Linked DNA regions of Homo sapiens: all the other regions are linked to region 1. The links come from fine-mapping of genetic effects on gene expression. A gene starts in region 1. Each other region holds a variant in brackets. All regions are shown on one strand. Distances are from middle to middle.

Region 1 (6,207 bases):
CAAATATCTGGATACCCTATGGCTGACCTATTCAAAATAATACATAAAATTAACCATCATAATTGGTTGAAAGGTACAGGTCCCACCCATATCTGAAGAAGGGAACTACATAAGGGTGTAAACACCAGGAGGTGGAAATCATAGGGGCCTTAAAATCTGTCCACCACACATACTGTTATTCATTACTTCTAATTTTATTGCACTGTGAAATTTATTGAGCCTCCCTTTAAGATCTAATACACAGTTTATGTTTTTACTTTAATGTTTCACATGTACCTGAAAAGAGAAAGGACATGTATTCACTGTTTGATGGAAACGTATATGAGTTATAAATATCTAATGGCTCAAGTTTATTAATTAAATTGTACAGACCTTGTATATTTGCTTTCTGTGTGTATGTGTGTTGGGAGAGGAGAGGAAGTATCTACTGTCTACTTGATCTATTGGATACTGAGAGGAGCCAGTTAAAAATCTCCAACTATAATTCTGATTTATCTGTTTCTGCCTAAATTTCTGTTAGCTGCTGCTTAATAAATATTAAAGCTGTATTGTTGGGCACATTTATGACCTCCCTTATGAACTTTCTATCTTAAGTTTTATTTTGTCAGGTTTTAAAATTACTACATGAGCTTTCTTTGGTTCACATTTGCACTATATCCTTTTCAAGCCTTTTAACCTTTTAGTGTCTGTTTTACACAAGTTTCTTGTAGAAAACATATTGCTGAATCCCTTGCTTTCATTCAATTTGAAAGACTGTTTTTCTTAATTGGTTAGTTTAAGCCACTTACATTTATTGTAATTGCTGCTCTATTTAGGAGGCAGCATAGAATAGCTCTAAGTATGGTTCTAAGTATGGGTTCTAGATCCAGACCACCTGGGTTCAGGCCTTGGTTCTGCCACTTTCTAGCAAGTTAGTTAATCTCAGTTTCATCATCTATAAAATGAGGATGATGAAAGTAATAGTACCTTCCTCATAAGGTTATTATGAGGATCAAATAAGAAACACCCAGAAAAGTATCTGGAACATATTAGGTACACTGAAAGTAAAAATTATTATTAGTAATTTTATTTCTGCTATCAAATTTCATATATTCTAATTATTGCACTTTCTTTTTATTCCTTTTTCCTCTGCTCTCTTGCCTTTCATTTGATAAAATTTTCTTCCACTGCTTTAAAAGTTACATGTTTTATTCTTTTTTAACGGTAGTTACCCTTAAGACCTACATTCACAAATATTTATCCCTATTGATTTATTAAAGTTAACAATTTTTTTCGTCTTCCTCCCATATGATAGTAATTTAACCCAGTACTACTCTAAGTACTCTAAGTAGTACTGGGTTACTTATCTCATCCATTCCAGAATGAGATTTGAGCCCACATGTAAATCAACACACAGCTTCCTTCATTGAGAAAGTCTTGCTACGAAAGTGTCAGCTGAATCAAAGAGTTTGCTTATGACATAGCTGATATGCATTCTGGTACAAGCTCCTTATCTCTTAGAGAACAATTAAGTTTTGTGAACCACCCTTTGAATGGCACTATTTTAGATCACTGTCCTATCATTTTGGCCTCTCATTCCTGAGTCCCACACCCCTCACAATATTGATATTGTCTATAATTTTAGGTCTGAATCATTATAAATACACTGTTCTTTGTTTTTAGACTTTTGAAAAGAGTTTTTGTAAGTCAGGTTTAATGAAATACAGTTTACATACAATAAAATTCACCTTTTCTAGTGTACAGTTCTACAAATTTTGACAAACAGATACCACTGGGTCATCAGTACCATTCTCAAGATAATGGAATATTTCCATCACTTCAGAAAGTTTCTCCAGATTCCCTTCACCCCCAGCACCTGACAACCATTGATCTATTTTCTGCCTTTTCCAGAATGTCACATAAATGGAATCATAGAGTAGCTTATTATATCTGACTTTTTTTCACTTAACATGCATTTGAGATCATCCATGTTTTTGCATATGTAAGAAGTCTGTTCCTTCTTAATGCTTAGTTGTATTTCATCGTATAGATGCATCACAGTTATGTATAGCCACCCACCAGTTCCTGGACACTTGGGTGGTTCCTGGTCTTTTTTCTAACACAACAATAAATTCAGCCTAAATATTTGGCCACTCTCATGCTATATCTATTGTATCATCTCCTGAATTTGTTTCTCTTCTTGCTTGATTATGTCCTCCAAGAATGTCATTCAAATGAATCTTTCATAAGAATATTTTTATTATTAATACATTCTCACATTCTAATGACAATATGGCTTAATAGAAAATAAGTTCAAAGTTATGCTTTTAAATACTTACATATAGAAACATTTTGCTTGAGATAAACCTTTTCAATCTGAAGGTTTTTTTCTACCTTGAAATTTATCTCCATTATATCTTCAAATATTTCCCCTTCTCTGTTTTTATATTTCTTCCTTTCTGTTCTAGTTTTACCCTAGATATAAGCTAGAAAATTTACAAATAAGCTAACTTGTTTTTTAAAACATTTTCTACTGCCTCTGGAGGTTTGCTGAAAGTGCTCTTCCAATTACTAATTCATCGTCAGCTGCATCTTTTAGACTATTGCACATTACTAATACGTAGCATCAATATTCATTCTAATTATTATTTTTATGCTTAATATGTTTTAGTTTCATATTTTTTCCTGATTCATATTGCTAATATCATAACTCATTTTAAATAAATTTATCATGCTTATTTAAAAATCTTGGTCCATCTGCTCTACTGATCAGTTTCAGATGGCATATGTTATTCAGTTGTGGTCTTTTAACAGTAGTTGCACTCCTCCAGTGTCTAATTCTTTGTCCTATGAATTCATGTTCCCCTGGGGTTTCACCTACTCTGTCTGATAAACATGCATCCAGGAAGGCCCAGTGAGTTTGCAGTGGGAGGGTGGTGTGAGCCCAGAAGGAAATCGCTGGCACCAGAGAACCACTGTCTATCATTCCCAGTTTCTCCCACTTACCCAGATCTTTCCTCCAGTCAGGTTTCTACCCTTAGGGAGAAGCAGCACCTAAAGGAAGCAATTAACCTAGCAACCCTAAGGGTGGCAGGGGGAAGGGTAGAGGCTTGATTGAGAGGAGGTGGGGGGAGGTCGGCCTGCAGTTTTTTTTGTTTTTCGTTTTTTAAATTCCTCACCCCAACAGTGCTTTTGCGCTGGTCTGACACTACCTGGAAAACTATGCCACCAGTCGCTTCAGTGGACACTACCATTTCAATTGCGAAGTCAGGCAATGATTGTCCTAAGGCAAGGTGGGAGAGAAGTCAGAGTAAACCACCTCGAGAGCGCCGGTCTCCCGGAGTGTCTGGGTTCGACTCCTGCCTCCACAACTTACTGGGTCTCCTCGAACAAGTTGCATCACCAATGGCCGTGCCTCAGTTTCCCTCCTCCGTAGATTAGGAATAACAATAGCAGTGAGAACAGAATCCAGCACACAGTAAATGCTGCTTACCTGTTTGCTATGTGGAATACGCCACTACACTGTTGCTCGGCCCTCAGGAAGGGTCTGCTGAGACTTTCTACTTCCTGCTCAGGGCAGAGGCCGACCACCCGCCCAAGGTCGTGGCGGCGCCGGCTCAGCTTTAGTCGTCAAAGTGCACATCCTGGGAGCCGCTGCCTCGAGGTGGTTGAGGCGAGAGGGCAGGGAAGCGTCTGAGCCTCTTCCTCCCACCAGAGCAGGACCCCAGCTGACAGCGGGTGAGCTGGGCAGAAACCCATGCCGGGAAGAGGCGGACCCAGTGGACCGCAGCGCCCGCAGTCGCCGGGCCAGGCGCAGAGGCGAACGGGAGGCGGCGCTGCACCGTGCCCGCCCCTCCCCGGCCCGGCCCCGGCTCCAGCCCCAGCCCCAGCCCCAGCCCCGGCCCCGGCCCCGGCTCGCGGGCGCTGCGTCTCCGCGTACAGGAGGCGGCGGCGGCTCCCAGTCACCGGCCCCCGCCGGCGAGCGCACGATGCACTGCCTGGGCGCCGAGTACCTGGTAAGCGCTCGCAGCCTCGGCCCTCGGGGGAGGAGCCCCGGGGAAGGGTCGAGTCCCCCGCCTTCACGCACCTTCCCTGCCGGACGCTTCCGCCTTTCCCGCGCCTCGGGGATCCCGCCCCCGCTTAGTACCTTGGGGCCACCTGGCGGGGAGGAACCTGGACCCTGCTCCAGTGCTGGGGCGGAGGCGGGGGAGACGCGGGCCGCGGGGCGCAAACTTGGGGTCGTCCTCAGGTGCACCTCCAGGTAAGCACTTGGCGGCAGGGGGCTTAACATCCGCTCCGCGCAGAGCAGGTGTTTCAAAGGCTGTGTGAAAGAGCTTCAGGTGGCCACGTAAAAAAATAATATTAATTTTAAAAATTTAGAAAAAGATTGGTTACTTTGGCCCCTCTTCGAGTAGATTTGGGTTCGGTTTCCAGGTTGAGTCCACCTGTTTATCTTCTTTTTCTCAACTCTCCCTTTTTCTGGAAGGTTTCTGCAGAAGGAGCCCCTAGGCAAAGGGAGTGGCGACCCCAGATTTATAGGAAATGCACAGATACGGCATGGTTATTCCTGTTCTTTCTCTTTTGGACTGGTTTGGTAAGTGTGGGTGCTTGGTAGGAAAGAGGCCAGAGTGTGTGTGCACGTCTGGAAATAACTCTGTCCCAAATGTAAATCGTAGTTGGTGCTGCAGTGAGAGACTTCTGCCGTTAACCCACAATAAACATCAGTTTGTACTCGGGAGAATTCTTGTCCTAGACTCGCTAGAAAGGCTGTCTTTTTGCTACAGGCCATGTTCTAAGGGGTGACTCCATTAGGAAATGGGAATTAACAGTTTGCAATGTGATTGCTATTTAGTAAGGCCAATGTGTCTCCTTTTACTCTCCGAACTTACTGAACAGAAGTTCTTTTAGCACCTGCCACACCCCCAAATCAAATATTCCTCAAGCTTTTGGTGCACCTTTAACAAAGGAAAAGCCAGGGTAAGCCTAGAAATAAACTGCATTTCCTTTAGCTGAACATCACACACACACGCGCGCGAGAGATATGTTGTGTTTAGCAGCCAACACTGTTAACCATAGCTAACAAGGAATGATTTTTCCCACTCTAATTTCGAGGTATGTATGATTGCTGGTAAACTCCATCAGGCTATGCGGTTATAATCCTGAGAGAGTCTGTTGGAAGCCGAATCTTGCTGCTTTTATACTTATTTTAGAATTGTAGGTAACAGCAGAAAACGTCTCACCCGACATTTTCAAAGGCCACTTTCACGAAATCATCCATGCCAGGATAAGGCATGCTATTTGCTGCATGGTAAATGATTAATTTATAGAGCAGGGTAATAACTACCAGATAGTAATTACCTTTGTTGAAAAGAATTCCATCTGAATAGGCCCTAAAATATCATGTTTGTTCTTTCCAAGTAAGAAAGGCATTTGTTCACTTATGACCCGTTTCACATAGACAGGCTTGGTTACAGGCACAGTGGAAGGTTAGGTCTGAAACACATAATCAGATGTTTTTTGTTGCTTACGTTGGAACTCTCCCCTAGGAGCTGGGAGAGACAGTGCACCTACAATACCTTCTGCTTAACTTCGCAGATGGTTGGTGTTTTTATCTGAGACTGCTGTTGTATAAATGCAGGGAGCAGCTGGCCTGCCTTGTGCCTGGCAGCTTTGACCTCAAGCTGTTATTGTGATTTAATGATCTGCCGTAGCCCCTCCACAGCTTCAACCTAGGACCTCACTACCAAACTCTCAGCCCAACAGCTGAGAATCCTGGGGAAAATCTTTGTAGATGACCTATCACAGCCTGAAGAATTGTGAACCAGCTGAGAGGTGGCACGGAGCTGGAAACTGCTTTAAAATTACATTTCATTTGCAAAATAAGTCTGAAGTTTTAATATATCCAAGTTCTCACTATGGCATTCTGTTTTAAGAGTCAGAGTCCTTTCTTAGCTCACTGGCTTTTAGTGTCTTTTGCAACATTTTTTATTTGCAGGTATTTAAAACAGAGCAAGGAGTGTTTTGTTTTTGGACTTTTTTTTCTGCCTCTGTTGTTCAGCTTTCAGGTCTTGTGACAGATGTCCTGACTGGTGATGGTGTGCCCTGAGTTAGGGCTGGACAAAGGCTTGGGGGAAGGAGCTGAAATTATAAGCAGAGATGGTTCTTGCAAATGCAGCACCAGCCTGTGTTTATATTTGCATTAAACATAAGGAACAAAGTCTCAAAGTC
Region 2 (6,491 bases), 23 kb after region 1:
GATTCTTGTACCTCAGCCTCCCGAGTAGCTGGGATTACAGGTGCCCGCCACCATGCCTGGCTAATTTTTGTATTTTTAGTAGAGATGGGGTTTTGCCAGGTTGGCCAGGCTGTTCTCGAACTCCTGACCTCAGGTGATCCACCCGCCTCGGCCTCCCAAAGTGCTGGGATTATAGGTGTGAGGCACCATGCCCGGCCAAATTTTTTTTATTTTTGAGAAGAATACTAGGACTTTCAGAGACAGGCTTACCACACTTGATTGAATGGTGCATCAGAGACTGCCCCACGTATACCTTGTTATTTTTATTTAGTGTTTAGTAGATATCCCAAGATATTTAGAGATTGAATACAATCCTCAGCCGTCACTGTTCTGGAGGGTTTTGTCATCGCAGTACTACCATCATCTCCCCTATCCTTTGTTGCTATTGAGGTTTATGTGTTTTGCTTAATTTTTCAGCCTTGTCTTTGGCCATGATGTTTACCTTCAGATTCATCACCACCCTTCTGGTTCACATTTTCATTTCATTGGTTATTTTGGGATTGTTGTGTAAGTATTTCTCTACTTGACTGATTTCTTTTCGATTAAATGAAAAGCCTTTACATTAAGTACAGAACTTAAAAGTTGGCATTTTTAAGCTACATGGAGTCTTAAAGAGTATCTAGCCCTGTCACTTTACAAATGAGAAAACTTGGCCTCAGGGAGGACGATGGGAGTTGCTATGTCTCACAGACAGTGCAAAGTTAATGACCAATCTTTTTTTTCTTCTTTCTTTTCTTTTCTTTTTCTTTTTCCTTTTTTTTTTTTTTTTTTTTTTTTGAGGCAGGCTCTCACTTTGTTGCCCAGGCTGGAGTGCAATGGCGCGAACGCAGCTCACTATAGCCTCAACCTCCTGGGCTCAAGCGATCCCCCTGTCTCAGCCCCCCAGGTAGCTGGAATTACAGGCACATGCCACTACACCCAGCTAATTTTTGTATTTTTTGTAGAGACGGGGTTTTGCCATGTTGCCCAGTCTGGTCTCCAACTCCTGAGCTCAAGCGATCCGCCCACCTTGGCCTCCCAAAGTGCTGGGATTACAGGTATGAGTCACCACGTCCAGCCATATCTGTAGTTTCTTCTGCTGTGCTATGCTGCCCCTGAGATGAGCTTTCCAATACCGTGATCCTGTATCCATAACGTTAAAAGAGAATCCCAGTACCCACTGGGAGCATTTTAAAGGATTTCTTCTGAATGCGCACCTCACCCATTGGCACGTGGGTGCCCACAGTTGTCATGTAAAGGTTCTGACCAGCCAGAAGACACACAGGCCTGCATGGAAGCAGAGTCCTGGAGACCCTGTACTGTGCCCATATTTCCCTCCCGGTTGCTGGATTGTGGATCTCACCAGCAGTTGTTGGGAAAGAGGTCCGAGGGACAAGGGCACGCAGGAGGCTCAAGGCAGCAGCCATTTACCAACTGGTGTGGGGTACAATCAGGTGTCACTTAATGACAGGAAGGGATGTGTTCTGAGAAATGCATCACTCAGCAATTTCCTCATTGTGTGAACATCACAGGGTGCACTTACACAAACCTAGATGGTAGAGCCTACTACACACCCAGGCACATGGTATAACCTATTACTCCTAGGCTACGAACCTGCACAGCATGCTACTGTACAGAATACGGTTGGCAGCTGTAACAGAATGGTCAGTATTTGTGTATCTAAACACATCTAAGCACAGAAAAGTACAGTATTATTAATCTCATGAACCACCATCATATATGCAGTCCATTGTTGATCAAAATGTCATCATGCAGTGGATGACTATATTTTAATTTTTAAAAACTGATGTGATTGTCATGTTTCTTTCCCCTGAGTCATCAGCTCTGCCCTCAGCAACTTAGAGCCCTGTAGCCCTGTGTCGGAGGACAGGCACAATGACTTCTGAGGGTTGTTTCTTCCTGTCCACTCCAACCTTCCTATAGTTACTGTGGATATGGCATAAGGTGGTATTTCGTACCTAAATGTGGAGTACTTGCAATGTCAGGGCATCTTCCAAATGAGCTTCTGACTTCCATGATTCCCACAGGCCGTGTAAATTTTCCTGGTTTTGTGGGTGAGCAGCCAATATCCAGGCTCCACAGGAGTTATCACCACCAGAGCTTGCTTAAAACATTTAGACAGTGAGCTCTGGCATTGTCCCTCTCACCATCCTGTCCATGGGGTTTTCCTCCTGCTCGCATCCAGACCCAACCTGTGGGTTAGGTGCCTGTGTTCTGGGGTCACCATCCTGGGTCTCCCAAAACAAGCATCATCCCAGAACTTGTGGGTCCTCTATGGGTTGCCCTGGCTCTGCCCAGCTTCTCCAGAGGGCAGCAGTTGCTTGTAGGGTCCGGGTATTTGGGACCCACTGCCAGAGCAGTGCCACGCGGCCGGTGGGCAGTGGCTGGACTTCCTGTGTGATTCTGTGTGCTGGGGAAAGGTTACCTCATGGCGTGTGCCCTGAGCTCTGCTACTGTTCTCTTTTCTAGTTGTCTGCGGTGTTTTATGGTGGCTGTATTATGACTATACCAACGACCTCAGCATAGAATTGGACACAGAAAGGGAAAATATGAAGTGCGTGCTGGGGTTTGCTATCGTATCCACAGGCATCACGGTAAGAAATGCTCTTCTAGCAGTAGGTCAGGTAGCCAGCCAGGACTCTGAAATCCAAATCATTGAATTCTAGCCAAAAACAACTATAATTTGTTTTTCTTTTGATTTAGAATGTGCCTTCTTTGGATTTGAGATACCTGTATAGGGATAATTCAAAACTCTTCAAAAATAAGAAAAAAAGGTTTTAGTTCTTCCCAAGTCATTTCTGCCACCTCCCAGAGACTACTGTGTTATCCTTGCTGTTGCACTGTTCTCAGCCCCAAGGGGCTACAAGGTGGGCATGGTGGGTGGGCG[G/A]AGGCAGGCTTACGGCAGTTCCCATTCCCTGTTTGTGAGGTGCGGCTCCCCTTTGCCAGTGTATGCTCAGCTTCCGCTGCCCTCTAGCACACAGAGCCCTTTGTTTCCAAACCCGCTGGCCACTGGGTTATTTTGGTGTTCAGAGAACTTGCTGCCTCCTCAGTGAACTCTCTAGCTGAAAACAGGCTGACTTAGAATATTGAGGGAGCAGGTATTAGTTACTGGTGGTGGGTGGTTGGCAACCAAATGTCATTCAGGACCCTCTCCAGGGGCCGTTAGGAAGGCTCAAATCACAAGGCCCTGGGGCGGACCCCACACTGGCTTCAGGTCCCCCAGAGTCGTCGTTGCTGGTGTGTTGCTTACTGACTGTTCTGTGGAGCAGCTGCAGCCAGGGGTTTCCACAAGCCCATTGAATCTTGCAGCAAATGCAGATTCTCACACCAACAAAATTCTCTCATAGGAAATCCTTCTATTCTCATATTTGGTAGTTTTCACATTTTCTCCTTTCCACGGTGAGGTTTTGGGTTTGTGATCTTCACATAAAATGTGCCAGGGAGTAAGGGTACAATAAAGTAAAGCACCTGGTTGCTCTCGCCTCAGGCAGGGACCAGACCAGACACTCAACAGAGTCTGCAGAGGAGGCTGGAGATGAAAGGGCTTCCCCATTCCCCAGGCTGGGCATAGGGGAAGAGGAGCAGGGCTGGGGGCTGGGGAGGGTCCAGTTCCTCCGTCTACCCTCCACAGGGCTCCCTTTTTGTTTGTACACTGCACCATTTATGCCACCCAGATTTCAGGGCCGGGGCAAGGTTAGGGAGAGGGGAGGCCATGTGAGCAGGGAGGCTGTTTTCACCTGGGTCCATGAGTTCTGCACAGGGGCTACTCTATAAGGCAGAATTGAGTCCCAGCTCACCTCCCGTTCATTTGTTGTGAGTTCTTACCAATTCCCGGTTGCTAGATGAGCTAGTTCACTCATCCTCAGAAAAGCCCAGATGGAAGTTCCTCCTCAGCCTTTACAACTGAAGGGTCTCCTCTGGGTGTCTTGCGGGGCCTCTCCTGACACCTCTCCCTGCATGGTCAGGAGGCTGTGCTCCCAGATCCTGGAGCAGCTTCTGCAGTTTATCCACTGTCACTGTCTTTCCTCCACTTGACTGTTGACGGCAGAAACGCTCCAGCAAAGCTGGAAGAGAAAGAGCATCTCAGGCCAAGGGCACAGCATGCATGAGGTCACATGGGCAGGGGTGTGACTTGCAGGAAGTTCCCTTGATGGAAGCCTGAGATGCAGGTGCAGGGAGGGTCATGTCACAAAGGTCCTGATCTGCAATGATGATAGGTTTGATCTTTCTCCAGAGGCACTGGGGTGCCGTAGATGGATTTTGAGCCGAGAAACACCATCTTTGTGTTTGCGCTTTACAAAGGTCCCCTTAGCTGTGGAGTGGAGGAGGGACTGAGGTGGGGCGGGGTGGGGGGGGTGGTCAGGGAGGTTAAATGCAGAAAGCTAATGAGGTTATTGGGGTCTAGAAGAAAGAGGCTGAGACTTGAGCTGTGGCATCAGCGGTGGAAACAGAGAGGAAAGGAAGGCATGAGCGGTATTGAGGAAACTGAACCAGAGGTGATTGAGACTGTACTGGGCACTTTGCCAGTCCTTGACCATAAGAATGGCCCTGCTCTCTAGGAGCCTAATCTAATGGGAAATTCAGACGAGAAAACATTTATAGAATATGTTAAATAGTACAATAGGGTAAGTGTGGAATAAAATGGGAGCACACAAGAGGGGAACCTAACTTACTCTTGGAAAGTCTAGAAAAATTAGGGCCACTGGAGGTAAAGAATACAGGGGGAAGAGGAGGTTCTAGTATGAAGATAATGAATTTGATTCAGGATAAATTGAGTCTGACATACTGTAGGACATCCACGGCCTTGTCAATAACTGATGTGCTTATTCTTCCAGCACCTAGAGGAAAGTGAGGCTGGAGGTTTTTATTTGGAGGTTGTCAGCATCTAGGAAGGATGCTGAAAGCACAGAGGAATAGGAGATACCCCCAGAAGATCTCAAGAAGCAGCAATTAAAGAAGTAGGAGAGCTAAAAGAAAGATCATGGAAGCCAAGGGAGGAAAATGTTTCGAGAAAAGAGGAGTGGACAAGGGATCTAATGCTATGCTGAAGTCAAGCAAGACCTGGAATGTTTCCATGGCATTTAACATTCAGGAGGTCACATGAAGTGACTTCAGAGAGAGCTGTTTCAAAAGAGTGTTGGGATCTGGATGTTTGTGGGTGGTTGAAGAATGAGTTGGGGTATGGAAATACAGATGATGGGTGTAGACAAGCCAAGAAGCTCGGCCATGAAAACAGTAAGAGACGGCAGTGGCTGGATGGGGATGGAGGGGTGCAGAATGGTTTGTTTCATTAATATGAGATTTGTAAATGTTTATATGCAGGGAGGGAAAGCTAGAAGAAGGCACAGAAGGTGGCTTTGAGTCTTTTTGCCTCATACTCATATTCCCTTGACTTTTGCAATATCTTGGGTTCTGTGGGATGTGGAGGGGAGGATATAAGACAGTTCCTTGACATTAGAAGACCTTATTCTCATTTTATCTTTTTCACTGACCAGACTACAAGGCCCTTTATGGAGGGACTGTGTCTTCTTCGCTATTATGTCTATTAAGATCTATTCCAGGGACCAGCACTTACTAGATGCTCAGTTAGTGTTTGCGAATGCATCTGTAAAATTATAACAAAGTAGTGAGTAACTATCTTAAAAGAGCTGTTTGCTGAGATGTCATAATAATAGTAGGGCTTGCTTTAAGCTCTACCCAGTTCTCCATTATTTGGAAGTAATTTACTCAAATCCCTTTCTCACCAGGCAGTGCTGCTCGTCTTGATTTTTGTTCTCAGAAAGAGAATAAAATTGACAGTTGAGCTTTTCCAAATCACAAATAAAGCCATCAGCAGTGCTCCCTTCCTGCTGTTCCAGCCACTGTGGACATTTGCCATCCTCATTTTCTTCTGGGTCCTCTGGGTGGCTGTGCTGCTGAGCCTGGGAACTGCAGGTAAGGGACAGTGGGTGTGGGTTCCATCACCTTGGAGTCATACACAGAAGACCATTTTGGAACCACTGGCCTGTTTCTGTAGGCACCTAACCCCTCATTGAGCCAGAGGTGTCTGATGACAGCAGCGTTGGTGCTTGGGGCTCTGTCATGGGGAAAAGTGGGAAGTTCTTTTACCTCTTCTATATTGGTTTTAAAGAAGCTGGGTTTGTGTTTCATGAGAGAATAAATTCAGTAAGGACTGAAAGCTCTAGGAAAAACTACAATATGAACAAAGGCCAACAGCAAGAATATTACCAGATGTCTCCAGGTATGAGTTTTATCCAAGGTAATTTGCCAACCCCTATCAAATCAGTAGGTGACAAAGAAGAACCCAGGAAAGACTCTATTAAAAATATATTGTGCAGCCGGGTGCTATGGCTCATGCCTGTAATCCCAGCACTTTGGTAGGCCAAGGCAGGTAGACCACGAGGTCAGGAGTTTGAGACCAGCCTGACCAACATGGTGAAACCCCGTCTGTA
Region 3 (6,491 bases), 49 kb before region 1:
ACCCCAGGAGAGAGCCTGGATTCCAGGCCACTGCTGCCAACACTGTGATCCTAAACATGCTCCTTAACCTTTCTTGGCCCCTACATTTCCTTTTCTATAAAACAAAAGGTCATGAGATCCCTTCTAGCTGGAGAGGCTATTTCTGGCTACCTAGAGTTGTCACTTCTGGGCAAACCTGGTATTGCTGCCCTCTTTGTTGTTTCCATTTTTTATTTCCCTCCTCCCTCCTTTTTTTCCACAGAGTACCTACTATGATCTCAGAACAGTCCCTGCCCTCAAGCACTTCTCCACCTAGTAGAGGACATAGCAATGATAATTATTATAATCATTATTATTTTAATGAGAATAAACACTAAAATGCTAACTGCCAATATTTACTGGGCTCCCACTATAAGCCAGGTATTATGCTAAGTGCTTTTCATGCAACAGCTCATTTAATTTAATTCTTGCAATACCCCTAAGAGGGATGAACTGTTATTCTACCAGTTTGTGTTTCAGGGAAGTCAAGTGATGCACCTCAAAGCCCATAGCTCTTGCCTGATAGAGCCTTTTGAACAAATAAAAAATCACAGTGCCACACGACAAGTGCTATCATACTGGCATGCACAAAAAGCAGTGAGCAGCTACCAAGAAGGAGAAAAAAAGATCCCTCCCTACATGAATCTGGAAAGACTCTTTGAAGAGGTATCATTGAAGAATAAGAGTAACTTTACCTGATGCAGAAGAATCTCATTGCAAGATTAGATTAACCCGTAACTTAGAAAGTGATGAAGAAATAATAAGTATCACTGTTTTCTAATAATATTACAGTAAAGGAGATGACTTGGGTTTTCATCTGGCTATGTGTTAATGTGGATGATGCACGTTTTTTCACAACATGCACGCATACAAAGATACCCACTTCATGGTTTCAATTATTGCTTCATTTCCTCCTTTGTGCTAAGTGATGCTGCCTATTTGTTGAAAGGGTACAAGAGTTCTCTTGTAGTCTTCTGCCTGCCCTTCCCCAATTTTCCAGTCTATGGGTTTGTTAATCATGTGGTGATTTTCCAGGACAAGAACTTGAAAGTACTCTACTTAAGATACGTTATAGAATAGATCAGGGAAAACCCCTTCACTTTCTAGGAACATTAACAGCTGCGTGAAGGCCTCAGAGAACTGTTCCCTCATTTAATTTCTGGCTTTGACTTATACCTAGCCACATATTTCAGAGTTTAAAAGTGTGGAAATGTGATGTTTTTCTGCTGAATATTCATGTCTTCTTTAGATAATAGGAACTCAGTTTTTCCTGGGGAACCACTTTTCCCCCAGTCTCAGTCCAAGGGCTTGAGAGTGGTTACCCCCGTCCTAGGCCTGGCCAATCAAGGTAATAGTCATGATCCATTCTGGGCTGCAAAGCATCAGCCTTGGAACTTTGCTTGGTCTTCTTTGCAGCAAATCTAGTGAGATATGAGCTTGGTACTACAGGTGCCCATCATTGCCACAGTTGAGTAGAGTCTACCGAAAATGAGGCTAACACAAGCAGCCTCCTGTGTGGACAGAGAGAAAGCAATGAAAGGCATTAACAAGCCTGAGCAGAAACACACTGTATTAGCCTCGTTCACTGCCAGAGGGGCCCCTGAAGGGGACACAGTGACACAGTATCTACTGATACTGCCCTTATTCAAGAGGTCAGTGCTGTCCTTCACCCCTACCTCATTCCCTACACCCTGGCTAGAATCTCATAACTCCTCCAACAACTTAAAATCACTCTCTCACCTTTGTGTTAGATTTCTGTTTCCAACTCTGCCCCTGTCCCCTGCCAAGACCCACCAGCCTCATGGCAGAGACATCTCTTCATGTCCCAGCAAGTACATCTGTGTGGTCAGTCAGGAACCCTCTCAGGGCCAGTTGCAGCCCTTCCATCACCAGGTGACCCTATCTTATGACCAGAGAGCCTTAGACTTTCCACCTTCCCTTGAGGCCCCACGGTCTTCATGCCAAAGAATAAGGTGCCAGGCTTCTCCCTGGACATCCATGGCCTCAATACTAGTGCTGTCTGAGACTACTGGCTCCTCACACCAACCCCCAATCTGCAGAAAAGCAGGTTGGGATGTCTGAATGAGTCTACATGAAGGATATTCCTTCAAATGTGCATCAGCGTGCATGAGGCTGTTTGTTCTGTAAGATAGCCCAGCCATATCCCAGAGCTGATTAAACAACAATTATGCCACAAATATTATACCCAACATTATGATCTTCTAGGATAATACCCTGATTGTCTCTGAACCTCACTGAATGTCATGGTTGCTGGTGACCCACTGTGATGTTTCTGGGCCACATTCTATGTAGCTAAATTGTTTGGGATATTAACATACCTGGAAGGACCTTTCCCCAGTCCATTAAAAATCCTCTAGTCTTTTTAGGCCACTTAAGGAAGGGTCATAGCTAGCATGGTATGGTCTACAAACTTCAAGTCTACATTCCTGACATGACACCACCCTTCCTGGTAGGAACCAGCCACAAGAAGAAAGGCCACTCAGGTTTCCTAGCAATGCCTTATTTTGGACACATTCCAAGACAGCCACAGTCAAACCAAAGTTTCGGGCAGGTCTCAACTAAGACTGGTTTGTATTTCCAAAGTCACTTATAAGCCAAGTCCTGGGACCCAGAATGTATTTTCCCATGGAAACAGTGACATAGACTATAACAAAGTCATCATGCCAAGCCACAAGTGCCTACAGCTATCATGGTGCCAAGAGCACTATTTCAATAACTCCCAATCACTTTATGTAACATTGCTTCCATAGGAAAGCTCCAATTGAGTTTCAATCTCCAATGCAGGATTCTAGGAACACATTTCCAAGCCCCCACATTCATCTTGGCAGCATGAGAGAATTACCTCTTTTGATCAAACGTTCATTCATTCCCACAAATACTTATTGAAACTCTATTTTTCATGAGCCACTGCTCTAGGTGCTGGGGATACAACAGTGAACAAAAGTCACCCACAAAGTTCTGAAGTGGAAACACAA[A/G]GTGATCTGATACCATATTGGCCAGCATAATGAAGGGAGGGTCATCTTACTGTTTCTTCCACAATGGCCAGTGAGTTCCACAGGTGAATTTCCATTTTCACCCTAGAATACAGAAATGCAGACTCTTGGTTTCCTAGCTTAACAATGATAAATCTAGTCTTCACTTTGCATTCTATTTTTCAAATTTAGCTGTTGACACTCAAATTGATTAGAAGAAAATCATCAAGATAAGACACATTCTCTCTTCTTCCATGTGGCAAAAAAGGACCCTGGGGACACATTGAGTCTTAACTGAGCTTGACAGGCTTCCTTGGAAATTTTGAAGGGTTTGGGGAGAAGGGGAGGAGGGTAATGCCCCCATGCCAATGGAACCACCAGACCAGTGGATTTCCAGTCAAACCAGATGGCAAGAAAGGAGCTGCATTCTTCTGCTTCCCAGCTGCTCTTGGAGACTCTTCCAGGTAAGTTAATCTGGAATCTGTTTACCTCTCTAACATTTGCTTACTTCCGTAGCACACTGAGAATTCTGCTGCCAAATTGACTGTAGATTGGAGTTTGCACACTTCACTCTTTACTACCACTCATGTATTCACCCAGAGCACTTAAAGACTTCCCAAATTTAAAGGGATGTTTTCTAATTTTCAAGTACTTATTGTCCCTTATAAAGTGATCTTGTAAGGTTTTTTTCCCCCTTCTTGGTCTATGTTTAATGGTTTTTTGTGATTGAAGCAATGGGGAACAACTCTTCCTTACAGCGAAGAAAACAAACTCCAAGAGTAGTAAATCTTCATGAGACTTATTCCTTCTCCTTTTCCTTCTTAATAGGTTTATTTATCTGGATTAAAACTCACATTAAGCTTTTTTTGGAGGGTATTTGCAAAAGGCCTACACTAATAACAAGTGACTTTCCAATGGCATTATTAGATTATGAGCTTCCTTGGAACAGGGAGTATCTTTAGTTCTGCTGAAGAGTGCAGGATGAAAGTTAGACAAAAAATAATAATAATAATAACACATTTAACAGTTATGCAGATATTGCTCAAAAACTGGCTTTTACTAGCAGGGTGGCACATTTCTCTATTGACCTGATATCAGAAAAAGCAAAGCAGTCTTTTAAAGATTCAGACAAAATGTTTCTGGAATACATCTGTTGAAGAACATGGGAGAGGATAATTATATTAGTTGTATTAGGAAATAATAAATTCGACCTGCAAATATATAGAGTATTTAAAAATTCTTTCTTGATAACTTTTATTCCCATGGAGAGTAATTTTCCCAAATCCACTGAAATGAGTTCACATAACTCAATGTTTGTAAATAGCATCCCTCTGATCTCCTACAGAGCAAGTGGAACTGTATTCCAACCCCAGGGCCAGAAACTTGAGACCATGTGCCAGTCCATGGCACCAGAGTCCGGTCTGTCCCCATCTCTATGGCCACTGGTGCAAACATCAAGAGGAGAAGTGGAGGTGGATGGGCCTCCTCTTCTTTTTTTACCCTCCCATGGGGATGGGATGTAAAAGTGGGACCAGAAGAAGACAGAAATAAACAAGTGTTCTCCTGTTCCCTTTAGGAGTCTGAACATGGAAAATAGAGGCCCAGAACCTGCCAGAAGACAGCAGTTTCTGGCAGACATCCAGGAAAGCCCTCTTGTTGTGTCTTCAAAGGCAAAGTGTCACCTTTTCTGGTCTGCAGGGCTTATAGTCAATTTGACTCCATGCTTTGCCACTTTCTAGCTGTGCGACTTTGGAAAAGCAACTGAGCCTCACTCTTTTCCTTTATAAAATTCAGAATAATATAAATTTTACCACTTAAGGCCAAGGATTGAATGAATTAACATTTGTACAGCATAATAGAGGCACCATATATGTGGCACATAGTAAGCATGCCAGAAAGAGTAACTAGTATTGGGTTTTCCTTACATAAAATTACAAAGCCTATACTTTATTCCCCAGGTTGGAGAAGACGCTTTTCCATTTAAGCCCAAGAGATGCAGAGATTCAGCAGTTTATTGGCAATGTTTTGTACATGGCGTGATGGTCAGTAAGAGAATTCTAGCCTCTATTCAAAGTGTTAGACTCTGAAAACAAGTTTGGCTAGTTCTTTCTGTTCAAGAATGAATGACATCACTACCTCAGTCCTTGAAAACCAAATGAGAGAGTCATGGAGGGTGCTTAGCAGAGTTTCCCCACACATTTCTAGAGCATTTCCCGCAAGCTGACATTTCAACCCCAAGCAAATAAAAAGTTAGGCAACACTTTCCTTAAGTACCTTCTACAGAAAGAACACTGTGCTCTAGTTACAAAGCCATGAATGGTTGGGGAAACGGATGCAGTAAAGCATCCAAGGCTAGGCCGGGCACAGTGGCTCACGCCTGTAATTGCAGCACTTTGGGAGGCCAAGGTGGGTTAATCACCTGAGGTCAGGAGTATGAGAGCAGGCTGGCCAACAGGGCAAAACCCTGTCTCTACTAAAAATACAAAAGTTAGCCAGGCATGGTGGTGCACACCTGTAGGCCCAGCTATTTGGGAGGCTGAGGCAGGAGAATCACCTGAACCCTGGAGGCAGAGGTTGCAGTGAGCTGAGATCGCACCATTGCACTCCAGCCTGGGAGACAGAGCGAGACTCAAAAAAATAAAAAATAAATAATAAAAAAAGAACACCCAGGGCTAGATGTAAAGATGGAGCCAGTGTGGATTGAGCCCTGAGCTGGGCATCAGAAGAGCCTGGATCCTTGGCTCATCCCCTCCCCTTAATAGCTGCATGATCTCAAGTATGGCAATCGATGTCCCTAGGCCTGTGTGCTCAAGTGTACAACGCAGGAAGTGAATCTGAAGGTTTTTTCTAATTTGTGGTCTCAGTTAAGAAGAAAAAAAGGAAACATGAAAATATGTGAGATAAAATAACAGAGCAATACTCACTGCATCATAAATCCGGAGGTGGCTAGGCTGGACCAAAGGGGACATCAGGTAGAAAGTTAAAGTGTCTGTTTTTCCCAATTAAGTTTGTTTAAATGATTTAAATCCTTGAACTACACACTTTCCTAAGCTGATAGGAAGGAACTAGTACTGAGTACATTCGCTCACTGGGGCATAAATCTGAGCTGCTGGTGAAGGTTGGAAACTCTGGCATGTGAACCTATCAGAAGCCTTCGTAAGGAAATAGCCACTGATGAGTTCGTTGTGACAGAGGGCTGCAAAACCCTGAGACAGCCTGAGTTAGGAAAGAGGCTTCACCTCCCAGGAGAAAGCAAAATGATCTCATGGAAACCCAGGACTTACTGATAATCACCTGTAAATGAAGCTCTGCCTACGCGTCACTTTGCAAGGAGAATCAATGTCAACATAAGCAGACCCGCCTTGAGGGAAAACAAGGCAGGCTGCTGTACTGAGGAACAGGCTGAACTGGGGTGTGCCTCTCCCATGCCTGCTGCCCAGCAGTCCACCCTAAAGATAAACCAGCCCCAACTGGCTAAGA
Region 4 (6,491 bases), 42 kb after region 1:
CTCCTCCAGCCTCTCAGACCAAATGAGAGAGAAACATGAGCTTCATTGGGAGAGACTATCTGCCAGGGGTGATTCCTGCCATTGAGCAGTTTCCTCCTGATGATAAGGAGCACTGTCGGGTGTTTGTTTGTTTGTTTGTTTGTTTGTTTGTTTATTGAGACGGAGTCTTGCTCTGTCGCCCAGGCTGGAGTGTAGCGGCACGATCTTGGCTCACTGCAACCTCTGCTTCCTGGGTTCAAGTGATTCTCCTGCCTCAGTCTCCCGAGTAGCTGGGACTACAGGCGCCCACCACCACGCCTGGCTAATTTTTGTATTTTTAGCAGAGCTGGGGTTTCACCATGTTGGCCAGGATGGTCTCGATCTCTTGACCTTGTGATCCACCCGCCTAGTCCTCCCAAAGTGCTGGGAATTACAGGATGAGCCACGACACCCGGCCACCACTGTGGGTTTTTAATGTAGTGGTGCAGTTCCGGAGCCTCCATCATTAGAGACTCCAGAGGACTCACAGAGGGGCTGTTGCCCTTGGCATTGAGAACCTCCAAGCAGCCGGGGGTGGGTTGTGTGTATTGCTTCCTCCCAGGTAGGGGAGCAAAGAGAGTATTCTAACCAAATTTGCCAGCAGGTAATATTTGCCTGACAGTAATTTTGTGTTATCTTAGAATAACAAAATCAAAGCATTTTCAATGAGGACTTCTAATTTGGACTTCCAGTGAAGCATATGCATTTATCTCCTAATCTCTTCCCTTTCTCCAGCCACTCAAAAAATCATGAAAGATTGAAACAGGCACAAACACACCAGGACAGTAAGAAACAGAGAGGCAATGACAGCAGATAAGAAACACCAACCAAATGGTGAGAGCCAAAGAGAGGGAGGTGGAGCAGTGCCCTAAGCCCGCTGGAGAAAGCAGAAGCAGCCTGTCCGTGTGTGTTGGCTGCATGAGGAGGACAAATAAGATGCAGCCTGAAGTGAGCCACAGAATCCCAGAGAGGCTCAGGAATTCAAGTATAAAAAGTATTTCCAAAGATTAGCTGAAAGCCTTCCTCAGGAGTAGTTAGACCCCCAAATTCCACACCAGCTGAAGACAGGAAAATTTGTTCTCCAGAGAGGGAAAGCAGAGAGGGCCTGGACTTGGGGTATCAGGTACAGCTGAGGCTGGGGGCAAGTCTCTGTACTGAAAGCAGGGGGAGTAAGTGAAAGCCTAAACACTGAAATGAGGTCCCCCACATACACCAGCACCCCACATTCCACAGTTCAGCTCCCAGAATGTTGGCAGCTCATTTGATATTCCCTAGGAAGAGGTTAGAGGATGCTTTTGTGGAGAAACTGCCTAACCCAAAGTAAAGACCTACAGATAGTGCCATATGGGGTCCCCCAATGAAATGGATTCCCTGACTCCTAGCAAAACAGTGAAGCTCATCAGACAACAAGCAACATGCCTCACACAGAGCTTCCAGGTCATTCTGGAGAGCCTCACTCTTCAATTTGAACTGTTTACCAGTGATTATTAAACATGATGAATGCCTCTAAGTGAAAGAAGAGATCAAAATGAACAAATAAAATGAGCTTAGGGAAAACGGAGACAATGCAGGCTGCAAAAGGAAACAACAAAGCAAACTATAATATTATCAGAGAGAACAAAGATGTATTGCTAGGATCCCCTCCCACCAACAAAAGAAGGGCATAGTGAGAAAACAAGACTCTTGAGTAATTAAAAGTATGATTACAAAAGTGAACATTTTCTATTGAAGGATTAAAATATAAAGTGGAAGCACTCTTTCAGAAGGTAGAATAAAAAGACAAAGAGACACAAAATAAGAGAGAAAGGATTAAAAGAGGATAAATTTGGGAGACCCACTATCTGATTAATATGAGCCCAGAAATACAGAACAAAGAAAAGAAGAAAGAGAGGAAATTAACAAAGAAAATTTGCCAGGGCTGGAGGACACAAGTAAAAAGAAGATTCCAGAAGCTTCCCGAGGGAAAAAAGATCACAGGCAAAGGATCAAGGACCCAGAATAGGATCTGACTTTCACCAGCAACTCTGAACCAGAAAAACAGTGAAGGAAGGCTGTAGAAGTCTAGTGAAAGATTATTTCCAACCTAGAATTGTATAGCCAGTCTATACCTAGTATAGAGTTGTATACCTATTCTTACTACCAGTCAAGGGTAAAGAAGAACAAAGTCATGCACAGGCAGTCCCAAGATTTCCCTGCCCTCATCCTTTCTAGCAGGGATGTTCCCCACTGAAACTCATGTGTAAGCCAGAGAGGAAAACATGAGTTTCAGAAAACAGGCTTGAGCAGAGCAGAGCAAGGAATTCCCAGGAGGGTAGCTGCGCAGCAGGCGTGGAAAGCGTCCAGTCCAAGGTAGACAATGGGCTCCAGGAGAGATGTCACCATGAAAAGAAAATGGAACTGAGGGAATACCAGGTGTGTTCGAACACGTTAAGAAAAGCATTACACGTTGGTGAAGCGTTCGGTGAGGCCCATGGAAATCCAAGCTAATAAAAAAATGTGAAACAATTAACTTCAGAAAAAAAAAGTTGTACAGGAAGGGAATCTAATTGGAATATGCTACTTAGATCAGTTGTGAATATTATTTACAGCACATATTATTTATGTATGAATAACAAACACTAAGCATTAACTAAAAGCTTTGATGTAATTACATTGGAAGAATGGGAACATGAGTGTGAGGAGATTGGGGGAGTTAGGCTATGTAAGAAAATAAAACCAGAATCTTTCATAGTAGAAAAGTCAGTAGACAATATCTGAAGCCAAAAAACCAAGAAATAGCAGTAAGAACATGTAATTTTGAGGTGTGGAAGTGAGTTCTCTAATAACAACTAAAATATTATCTCAGGGAGAGAGAATTATGAATGGGGGAAGAAAACTGCTGTTTTTCCTATTAAGCCTAGCAGTGATTTTTGGCTTTGTAAGACACTTTACATATTACTTTGATTAAAAAAAATTAATTTATAATATAACACACAATGATTTATTTTTAGCACAACTATTGCATTTATTAAAGAGCTCTGCTTCCTTTTTGATTTTCTGCCTAATTTTGAAACCTCAAGATTTTTCCTAATCTTCAAAGTTCACAATTCTTCGTATCCTTTTCTGGCCTGCACTCAGGGTGAGGATTAAATATAGCCAGGGTGCATTCATCTTTGTCATTCATTTATGCACTACGAGGGCTGAAGAGTTCATACAAATACCATCAGGTACCAGGATATGGGCAATCTGTAGAATTTACTTTTTACAACCATTTGCTTGAAGAAGGATCAACTGAGAGCCATAAAGGTGGTGTTAGGGATGTGATAGGAAGGAGCTAGAACCCTTCAGGGTGGTGGAGGGACACTTGAGGTGTGACTTCATCATCATTTTCAAATATACAAAAGAGGGTTTCCAGCTGCTCTATATCTACAGATGGAGAAGAGGAAATGGATTCATAGCAGAGCCTAAGGAATTTAGGTAGAGATAGATGAATTTCCTAACCTAGCAAGAGTTACCCAGGCCAGCTAAAGAATCCTCTTCTTTCTAATAAAGA[C/T]GATTTTCATTTTCTGTAGAATAGGAAAGAAACATACAACCTTCTCAGCCCTCCAAACCCCATCTTGCAGTGATTTTGTTGTAAGAAATACTGGAAGAGACATGGTCTCTACAGGGACCACACAGTCCTTTGCTGGGACCAGCTTTACGTTGGAGGCCATTTGTCCCATGCAGCCCACACCTAGTCCAGGAGCCTCAGCACAAAATTAATTCTCCATAATGTCAGAAGAGTTTTTAGTGAGCACGAGGCTGGATCTAACTAGAGCCAAAGCTTGTCTCTAGGACCATGATGCGGCTTGCCTGGCTGTATGCACTCTGTTGTCTGATGGGAGTAGAAATTACAAAACAGTACTTTGTACCATGACCCAAAGGTGTTAGAGGACTTGGATGGATGGGACCATTAAACCCTTTGCCCCACAGCTTGGATTGATGTGGTATTTTGGGCAACTGGCTTCGTTGTTCTGGGAGCCAGGCACCATTAGCACTCAAAGCAGCCACACATCCAAAGGAAGGGGGAAGCTGGGCTTCATGGGGCATATGCTAGAGTCGCCTTACCCTCTAACACTGCCCGTGTCTTCCTTATTGCCACTACCCACAGAATTGGGGTGGATGTGGTCCAGTGGGAAGATCTAGAGAGAGATGAGGAAGGCTGACTGGGGGCCCAGTCCTCCCCAGCCTCCTAATACACTCATCGCTGGGTTGCCCCATATGCTCAACACTGGAATGTTGTCCCCCAGGTCAATTCTTAAAATATGAATAAGTCCAGAGGTAAGTATTATATTTAGCATCACTGGGTGTGTCAGATCCTCTTCCTGAAGGCAGGTTTGGCTGGTTGTGAGGGAGACAGAGCTGGAGGCACTAGCCCCACACACAGCAGGGGAGAGGTGGTAGGATGACGTTACCTTTGAACATGGAAATGAGTCTGAGACTAGGTGGGGGCCTCAGAGACACACCACTTCATTAGCCTTTTTTTTCTGTAGGGCTGTTTCTAGTTTTGAGGGCAGGTATTGAGTGACTCCTGGCTCCAAGAGCTGGCTTGGGTTGAAAGGGCCCTCTTTTTAAGTTCCGTCTCCCATCACGTGATAACCCAGCTTCTGGAACCTCTGCATCTTCTTCCAGCCAAGCCAGGCAGAGCCTCCAGCCATAACCAGGATGTGTTACAGACTAGGGAAGCTGAGGCAGTGCAGGTACTCCTCTGCCTGAAGTGGTTAACCCCATCACAGTGAAACCTCAGAAAGCTGATGCCTAACCCCAAACTCTAATACCTGGAGGGCTAACCCCAAGGCCCTCATTCACAGAGGCCTATGAATCATGTGTTTCCCTACCAGATGGAAAGCAGGTGTTGTCCTCTTCTCCCTGCCTCCCCTCTTGAGCACCATAATAAGTTCTAAGGCACACAAATCTCCTCAATGGAAAAGTAAACGTTCTTCCTTAAAAAAAAAGAAAAATGAGGGAAGGGAAAAAAAAGTGTGTCAGATTTTCCTGGCCTACACTACTCTTCTAGTTTATCAGATCTAAATGAATTCCTATTAGCAATAGCTTCCGTGGTTTTTCCTACTTTAAATAACACTGTGTTGAAACACACATCCTTTTTTTTTGTGGGACAACTGGGTTGCAGTTTTTCAGCTCCCAATATTACTTTCATGTTCTCTTTTTCTTCCTGGCTGATTTGAGTAACAGCAAAATGCAGCCATTGCCAACTCTTGAAACATTTCTGGCTGCCTTCCTTTTCCTCTCTCAAAACCTAGGCTGCTGTCAAAACCTTAATTCATAGTGACTTATTAGCAACCAGAGCAAGTTGTAGAATAATCCATTATAAAGAAACCAAGCTTCACTTGGAATCTGTGAAGTTGCTTCTCAGAAAGACCTTATTTTCTAGAACTGGCTTCAGCGGGAATTCAAAGGGTCACCCGTGGGGTGGCATCAGCCCCCACTCCTTTGTTTTATCTTTCAGGGTTAGGGGAGAGTGATGGCTGTGCCCATTCTGTTCTTTCTCACTTTTTTTTCCCTGCCTGTGAAACTGACTTGTACACATTCTTGGGAGCTGCGTCATGACAAGTCCCGTAAATGATTCACACTGAAGTGACCTTTAAAGAGCAGAGTAGAAACCAGCAGGATTTGGGGAGCCTAGAGCTGTGTAGGAGCCAAGCACCCAGGGCTTTCTGTCCCTTTCCTGTAAGTGGGAGCTCACTATTACCTCTCTGGCCACTGATCCTGGTCATGTGATTTGGTGATGATTTTTAATCACCAGGTGAATGCTGGCAATATTTATGTATACTCCTGTGTAAGTTAAACCTTGGAGATTGTGCCGCAATTAAAATTCTGAAAGTGAAAATGAGATGAATAGGCACCCTAAAGGGTTGGTGGATGGGCTCTGCATTATGAAGAGGGAAACTTTTTTAACTCATCAATTTTTTTAAATTTTTTCTGTTTTATTTGTAGCATTAAGTGGCACCAAAACGAATTAAATTAATACAAGAAACAATTTAACCGAAGCTACCAAGGAGTATAAAAAGTTCGCCAAATGCTTATTATGTCACAACTTTCTAAGTTGTTAGTACCACAGATGATTGGAACCAGAGAGCTTTTGCTGCTTTATAAAAAGTGTTTTTAAAATGCTATCCTTTTCCCTATTTCCAGAAGTAAAAATGATCCTCCTGATCATCCCATCCTTTCGTCTCTCTCCATTCTCTTCTTCTACCATCAAGGAACCGTTGTGAAAGGGTCATTTTTAATCTCTGTGGTGAGGATTCCGAGAATCATTGTCATGTACATGCAAAACGCACTGAAAGAACAGGTAAGGCTACCTCCTGATACACAGCACGTTCTGTGTTTGGGTTGCCAGAAACTTAATTACTGGAAAACTACAGCAGGTCCCAGGACAGAAATGTGACCTGTGACAGCGGGCCGTGCAGAAAGCTCCTGCACTCCTCAGCTCCCAT
Region 5 (6,491 bases), 140 kb after region 1:
TTGTTGGGTTCAACCTTCAGTAATTCCTCTAGGCTAGGGTTCAATCCCAGTAACCAAGCTCACCAGTCCTTGCTCCCAAATATAACTGCTACTTTTCTCTTTTTTTTTTCAAGCTGAACCTCAAAAAGTTAGCCTGGCGAGGGGAGGATGATGAGATTTCCCCTGTTGTCACATAAACAAGGAAGTAAAGGGGGCCCCTTGTGCTCTCAGAACTCCAAGCATGAAACGATGTGAGTCTAAGCATTTAAATCACTTATCTGGGATGAAGCATAAAAAGCTTGATTTTTTTTTTTTTAAACCAATTAGGTTTTAGCCTCCATGATACATTTTGGGGCCTGTGGTTATCACTGCAATTACACTTCAATTCATGCATTGGATACTTTGAAAAGGTTTAATAAACAATAAGAATATCAGCTGCCATTTATATTTATGCTTCTAGCACTGTCCCAGGGGCTTTAATATGGTACCTATAACCCTTCCAATTATTCTCATTTTAGAGTAGAGATAACTAAGACACAGGGAGGTGAAAAAAATAAGCAAACAAAAAAACCTGCCCAAGGACACACGACAGGTCAGAGGTTAAAAAAAAAAAATTAGCTGGGCGTGGTGGCGCACGCCTGTGATCTCAGCTACTCTAGAGGCTAAGGCAGGGTTCACACTCCCGGCTCTTGGTTTACCGAAGTTCTCATTTATTCCACTATCTCATAAGAAAAATGAAGCAAATCAAGTCACACTTTAAATCGACTGAGGAGATTTTGCTGTAGAAAGGAATCTGGTAAATCCCTTCATCAAGTAAATAATCCTTTGTGTGTAAATCTGGACTTATATAAAGTATATGTTTTTTGGCATGGTTAAGGTGAGCTACCATGTTCCTTTCCGGAAAGTAAAGATGATTTAAGGAATATGAAGGAGGCCTTTGTTCATTCCTTTGATGGATATTTATTCAGTGCTCCTCTGTGGGAATGCTAAGATGAGAAAAGCAGACGGTCCCTGTCTTCAGGGAGCATATCATTTTTCACTACCCCTTGTTATTGGGTTGCTAAAAAAGAGAATGTCTATTTTATTTGTGGAAGTAAGTCAGTAGTTTAAAAAACTTTTATTTTCTTTTCTGCTTATCGCAGTAATACATCTCATTAAAAAGTGTAAAAAAACCAAACATTATAAGAATGTATAATACAAAAAGTTAGTTTTCAGTATTGCCAGCCCCAAAGAAACAACCACGGTTATAGATGAAAATTTTAACCCTTAAAACTCTTTCTCCAGAGGAGAAACAGAGAATACCATCTAGTAATTTCCCTATCCTGGCTCCTGCAGTACCTTCAGGACTTGGAGATTTTTTTTTTTTTTTTTTTTTTTTTTTTTTACTGGGCGGCTCCTGACCTTGGGGAAAACAGAAACACAGCTGAAAGTAAATATGGAACAAAACTCTGGCCATGGGGCCTGAGAAAGGCTTTTTTCCACTGCCTTTTAAATGTATTTTCATGAAAAGACACCAAAGACATTTAAAGTTAGGATTGTTCTAGAAAATCCAGGATAGATAGCCACCAGATGTCTATGGGGAATCAGGGCACACCACAGTAAACACTCAATAGATATTTGCTGGAGGGAGGAATGAAGACTGTACTTATATTTAGAAAATTAAAACAACCCTGAAGTACATGCTGGATTTTACAGGTTTTCGATTTATCTCCTCCTCTTTTTTTTTTTTTTTCCCCATGCAGAGCAAAGGGAAAAACAGCTAAGTGTTTCCTGGCTGAATTTTATTTTGCTTTCAGTTTCTGCCATTTCAGTTCCTGTTATCGTGCTTTGAGGTGCACTGAACTGCAGCAAACCCAGGGGATCCAAGGCTACGTTGAAAAGCCTTTGACCACAGTGCAGGGAGCAGAAGACATTAATGACGTGATGTCGACACAGCCCGCACTCAGGATCCTCCAGGAAAAGAACACAGAGATAACCCCGGATCGATGGTACTTTTTGAAAATGCTTTATTGCAAAAGAGTGGCTAGGGTTTTACAAGGGCTATGAAGAAACATATTAAGGTTAATAAAGCTTTTTATTGAGTGTTTACTGAGTGTTACTATGTGCTTTACATCTATTAACTCATTTCATCTTCAAAACAACCCTATAAAGATGTTACAACTATAATCCTAACCTTACAAATGAAACAACTGAGGCACAGTGAAGTGCAGTGGCCTGCCCAGGTAAAAAGCAAGACAGAATTTGAACCCAGGCAGCCTGACCCCAGGGTCCAGGTATTAAACCATTCTGCTATAGTGCCTCTAAGATAACAGAGAAACTTGATGAATTACTGGGTTACTGAATTTTAGTTTACATAGGTTGTTTTTTTCCCCTTAAGAGTAGAACAAAACATACCTGAAGTATGGAAAATAACATTTATTTTATTTTATTTATTTATTTGAGATGGAGTCTTGCTCTGTCACCAGGCTGGAGTGCAATGGTGCGATCTAGGCTCACTGAAACCTCCGCCTCCCAGGTTCAAGCAATTCTCCTGCCTCAGCCTCCCGAGTAGCTGTGATTACCGGCATGCGCCACCACGCCCAGCTAATTTTTGTATTTTTAGTAAAGACAGGGTTTCACCATGTTGGCCAAGCTGGTCTCGAACTCCTGACCTCAGGTGATCCACCTGCCTCGGCCTCCCAAAGTGCTGGGATTACAGGCGTGAGCCACTGCGCCCAGCCAAAAATAACATTTAGAAAAGTTTTTAGCCTTGGAGCCCTGGAGGCAGAGGCCGCAGTGAGCGGTGATTACGCCTAGGCACTCCAGCCTAGGTGACAGAGCAAGACTCTGTCTCATAACAAATGACTTCCGATGGGACAGCCCAATGGGAGCTATAGAAAACCAATGGGAAGTAAAATTGGATGACTTATGCCCTTGACTGCAGGAATGCAATCACCGTGGGTAATGGGAGGATAAATACGAGAATGGAGGCAGGGATTTAAGCCCTGCCATCCATGTTTACTAGCTGCAATTAACCCTGGGAGTTTCTTAGCCTCCAGAGTGGGCTTCCCTCTGAGTTGTGGGTTGGCCCCAAAGATGCCAAAATTTATTCCAGTTATAAGTTATATTTTAACCAAATTTCTGGTCTCCATTTTTCCTTGGAGAATCACACAAGAAAGGAAATAAGACTGAGTTTC[C/T]CCAAAAATAAAATTATGTCATTTTTCTTTTCTTTTGAATTCCATTGATAAGCTAAGTGTAGAAAATAGTCCACTGCTAGTGTCAAACTTGTAGATGAGAAGCACAGCACATCAAACAAAAACCTCAAGGTGTAAGAGTCTTTTTTTTTTTAATCAAAATTATGCAAATAACACATGAGGCTGGACGTGGTGGCTAACGCCTGTAATCCCAGCACTTTGGGAGGCTGAGGCCGGGCAGATCATGAGGTCGGGAGTTTGAGACCAGCCTGACCAACATGGTGAAACCCAGTCTCTACTAAAAATACAAAAATTAGCCAGGCGTGGTGGTGCACACCTGTAATCTCAACTACTTGAGAGGCTGAGGCAGGAGAATCACTTGAACCCAGGAGGTGGAGGTTGCAGTGAGCTGAGACCGTGCCATTGCACTCCAGCCTGGGCAACAGAGGGAGACTCCGTCTCAAAGAAAAAAGAAAAAAGAAAAAAATAACAGATAATAACCTGATCAGGGAGAAAATTCAAATGTATAGAAACCCATGTTCAAAAAAGTTAGAGTTCTTCATTTCCTTAATTTTATCTCCTCCACGGGGTAAGTATAAATTTAAGTGAAGAAAATGATTTTAATAAAGTCAATTTAAAAAATTAGCTTCTGCTCTGAAAACCAGAATGACAAAATTTAGCCTTAGTTTGTGTTCTTGTTGTCATTTATTCATTGATAGGCGGTATCTCTTTAGCTCTCATGGTAGTCAAGCTGTTATCTGAGTTTCAGGTACTATAAATGTGCTTTAATTGTGTAGTTTTTTTTTTTTGTTTTTTTTTTTTTTAGAGACAGGGTCTCATTCTATTGCCCAGGCTGGAGTGCAGTGGCATGATCATAGCTCACTGCAGCCTTGAACTCCTGGGCTCAGGCTATCTTCCTTCCTCAGGTTCCAGGGTAGCTGAAACTACAGGTGCACACCACCACTCCTGGCTATTTTTTAAAATTTTTTGTAGAGATAGGGTCTCACTATGTCGTCCAGGGTGGTTTTGAATTCCTGGCCTCAAGTGATCCTCGCACTTCAGCCTCTCAAAGTGCTGGGATTTCAGATGCTACCATGCTCGGCCTGTGTATTCTTTAATAGATCTGCATGATAATTCAAAAGTCAATTGTTCTCTCTTTAGTGCTTTGGGTAAAATGCAGTGGAGTGGAAAGTCGGCCTAGGAGCTAGAATGCCTTAGTTTTAGTTAGGGCTTTTGTGACCAGCCACCTGTGTCTTGGAGTATCTTTGGTCCTGTGTCCTCACCTGCTAAAAATATAAGTGAGGTGTCCAGTTATAGACCTTCTATCTCTAAATTCTGTGTTTTCACATCCGAGGTTTTTTTTTTTTTGTTGTTGTTGTTGTTGTTTTGAGATGGCCTGGCCTGTTGCCCAGGCTGGAGTGCAGTGGCATGATCTCGTCTCACTGCAACCTCCACCTCCTGGGTTCAAGCGATTCTCCTGCCTCAGCCTCCTGAGTAGCTGGGATCACAGGCACACACCACCACACCCGGCTAATTTTTGTATTTTTAGTAGAGATGGGGTTCTACCGTGTTGGCTAGGCTGGTTTCGAACTCCTGGCCTCAGGTGATCTGCCCCCCTCGGCTTCCCAAAGTGCTGGGATTACAGGTGTGAGCCACCGCACCTGGCCTCACATCTGAGTTAGTAACTTCTGTTGGTGGTACTCAAAGAAGAAGAAAAATATCTAATTTATTTTTCTTTTGCTGACTGCAAGCAGAATTAGCTTATTTGTGCTTTGGCAAACTACTACTCCTATGGTTCTGTCTTTTGTTTCAACCCCATAATGGCTATTTTGTATCTCAAACTTATATTCACATGATTACATCTGATTTATTTTGCATGTCAGTCTAACCACTAAGCATATGTCATCACGTTACTTAATTTATAACAGAACATAAATTTGCTGTGTTGGCTCCTTTAGTTAAAATAGAATCTAGTAATTTACAGTCACCCACAAAGTAATTCACAGTGAAGAATACTAAATAACAATTAACAATGGCCAAGAGGCTCAGGAGAGAAAAAAATTCAAGGCAGATTTCTGTTAAAAAAAAAAAAAACCATTTTCTTAAAAAAAAAATCTACTATCTTGTTTTCTATCTTTTTTTCTGGCATTCCGCTGTCCACAGAGACAGGTTTTTGTTTTTTGTTTTGTTTTTTTATTTTTGAGACGGAGTCTCGCTCTGTCACCCAGGCTGGAGTGCAGTGGAGTGATCTCAGCTCACTGCAACCTCTGCCTCCCGGGTTCAAGCTATTCTCCTGCCTCAGCCTCCTGAGTAGCTGGGACTACAAGTGCGTGCCACCACACTCCGCTAATTTTTTTTTTTTTTTGTATTTTTAGTAGAGACGGGGTTTCACTGTGTTAGCCAGGATGGTCTCAGTTTCCTGACCTTGTGATCTGCCTGCCTCGGCCTCCCAAAGTGCTGGGATTACAGGCATGAGCCACCGCACCCGGCCACCAGAGACAGTTTTATACTCTTCATTTTTGGAAGAGCCCCTCTCTAAAAAGCCTCAGAATCTTTTAGTATCTTTCTGCAGGGGGAGAGGGGAAGGTATACAGAGAATCTAATGAAATCTATAGCTGTCTTCCAGAAAATACATAGATACACGTAAATCCCCAAAGTCATAGCCATTTCCATGGACTCCAGTTTAAGAATCCCTGGCTTAGAAGTTGGGGAAAACAAGATCCAAAAATGTTGGACATATGATTACTGACTATATTATACAGCAAACAATGGTATAAGCCAGAGCCTTAGTATTCCAAAATATTTAATATATAATTTGGATAGGGAGTAAATTAACTCCTATTTACAATCCAGTAAATTTATGAAAAATATCATGTTAACAGGTTTGGTTAAACAAATCTGGGTTTGAGACCACTGTGCCGCTCTCCAGAACAGTAGCAGAAAAATGTAAGGAAATCCTTCCATTGTTACTGACTCGTTTCCTTTTCAGAACTGGAATATACCTTTTAACATGCATTGCCTTATACTTAAATCTATACATTCAGCATTCTTATATAAGTCACGACTCTTTCTTTCTTTCTTTGTTTGCAATAGAAAAGTCCCTAAGAAAACAAGGATTCATGTGGTAGCCCTTGGATACTTTAATTATGTGACTAGACAATAGAGGGAACAACAAATTCATAAAAACCGTGACATTCTAAATCACAATTGTCAAGATTGATACCAAGTTAGAGCCTCCACAAAAATCACTGATGCTTCTAAGAATTCAATGACTTCTGTTGCTCAAATCAGATCACTCTAGCCAACGTTGATATGAAGAATGTATGGGCAGCTCCCCAA

Which allele goes with the higher level. Alleles are on the strand shown, and positions count from the first base shown. SD is a standard deviation of normalised expression in the study named. Not every link is listed here.
For the expression in breast of the gene that starts at base 3,874 in region 1, C is the high allele of the variant in region 5 and T is the other (small effect, 0.13 SD a copy in GTEx).

Evidence for each region. PIP is the estimated chance that this variant, and not a neighbour inherited with it, causes the effect.
Region 2: its variant is the best candidate, but not a certain one, in a credible set for the expression of SLC44A3 in sigmoid colon (GTEx, PIP 0.83).
Region 3: its variant is the best candidate, but not a certain one, in a credible set for the expression of SLC44A3 in blood mononuclear cells (TOPMed, PIP 0.69).
Region 4: its variant is the best candidate, but not a certain one, in a credible set for the expression of SLC44A3 in thyroid (GTEx, PIP 0.81).
Region 5: its variant is the best candidate, but not a certain one, in a credible set for the expression of SLC44A3 in breast (GTEx, PIP 0.79).

The regions. Positions count from the first base shown.
Region 1 is chr1:94,816,484-94,822,690 of GRCh38, forward strand. It overlaps SLC44A3 (solute carrier family 44 member 3), which reads left to right and starts at 3,874. Exons shown (of 15, transcript NM_001114106.3): 1 at 3,874-3,995; 2 at 4,466-4,573. The coding sequence starts at 3,969. SLC44A3-AS1 (SLC44A3 antisense RNA 1) reads right to left here and starts at 3,749. Exons shown (of 6, transcript NR_160780.1): 1 at 3,473-3,749. RefSeq lists a silencer at 3,878-4,067.
Region 2 is chr1:94,839,492-94,845,982 of GRCh38, forward strand. SLC44A3 (solute carrier family 44 member 3) reads left to right here. Exons shown (of 15, transcript NM_001114106.3): 7 at 457-546; 8 at 2,509-2,633; 9 at 5,787-5,973. Among named protein-coding and RNA genes, the nearest start is that of SLC44A3, 22 kb to the left of the region's middle. The variant G/A (reference allele first, on the strand shown) is at 2,927.
Region 3 is chr1:94,767,198-94,773,688 of GRCh38, forward strand. The region is part of intron 1 of SLC44A3-AS1 (SLC44A3 antisense RNA 1); the gene reads right to left. Among named protein-coding and RNA genes, the nearest start is that of MIR378G, 25 kb to the left of the region's middle. The variant A/G (reference allele first, on the strand shown) is at 3,015.
Region 4 is chr1:94,858,554-94,865,044 of GRCh38, forward strand. SLC44A3 (solute carrier family 44 member 3) reads left to right here. Exons shown (of 15, transcript NM_001114106.3): 11 at 6,190-6,346. Among named protein-coding and RNA genes, the nearest start is that of SLC44A3, 41 kb to the left of the region's middle. The variant C/T (reference allele first, on the strand shown) is at 3,551.
Region 5 is chr1:94,961,204-94,967,694 of GRCh38, forward strand. CNN3-DT (CNN3 divergent transcript) reads left to right here. Exons shown (of 3, transcript NR_168377.1): 3 at 1,776-2,067. Among named protein-coding and RNA genes, the nearest start is that of CNN3, 37 kb to the left of the region's middle. The variant C/T (reference allele first, on the strand shown) is at 3,156.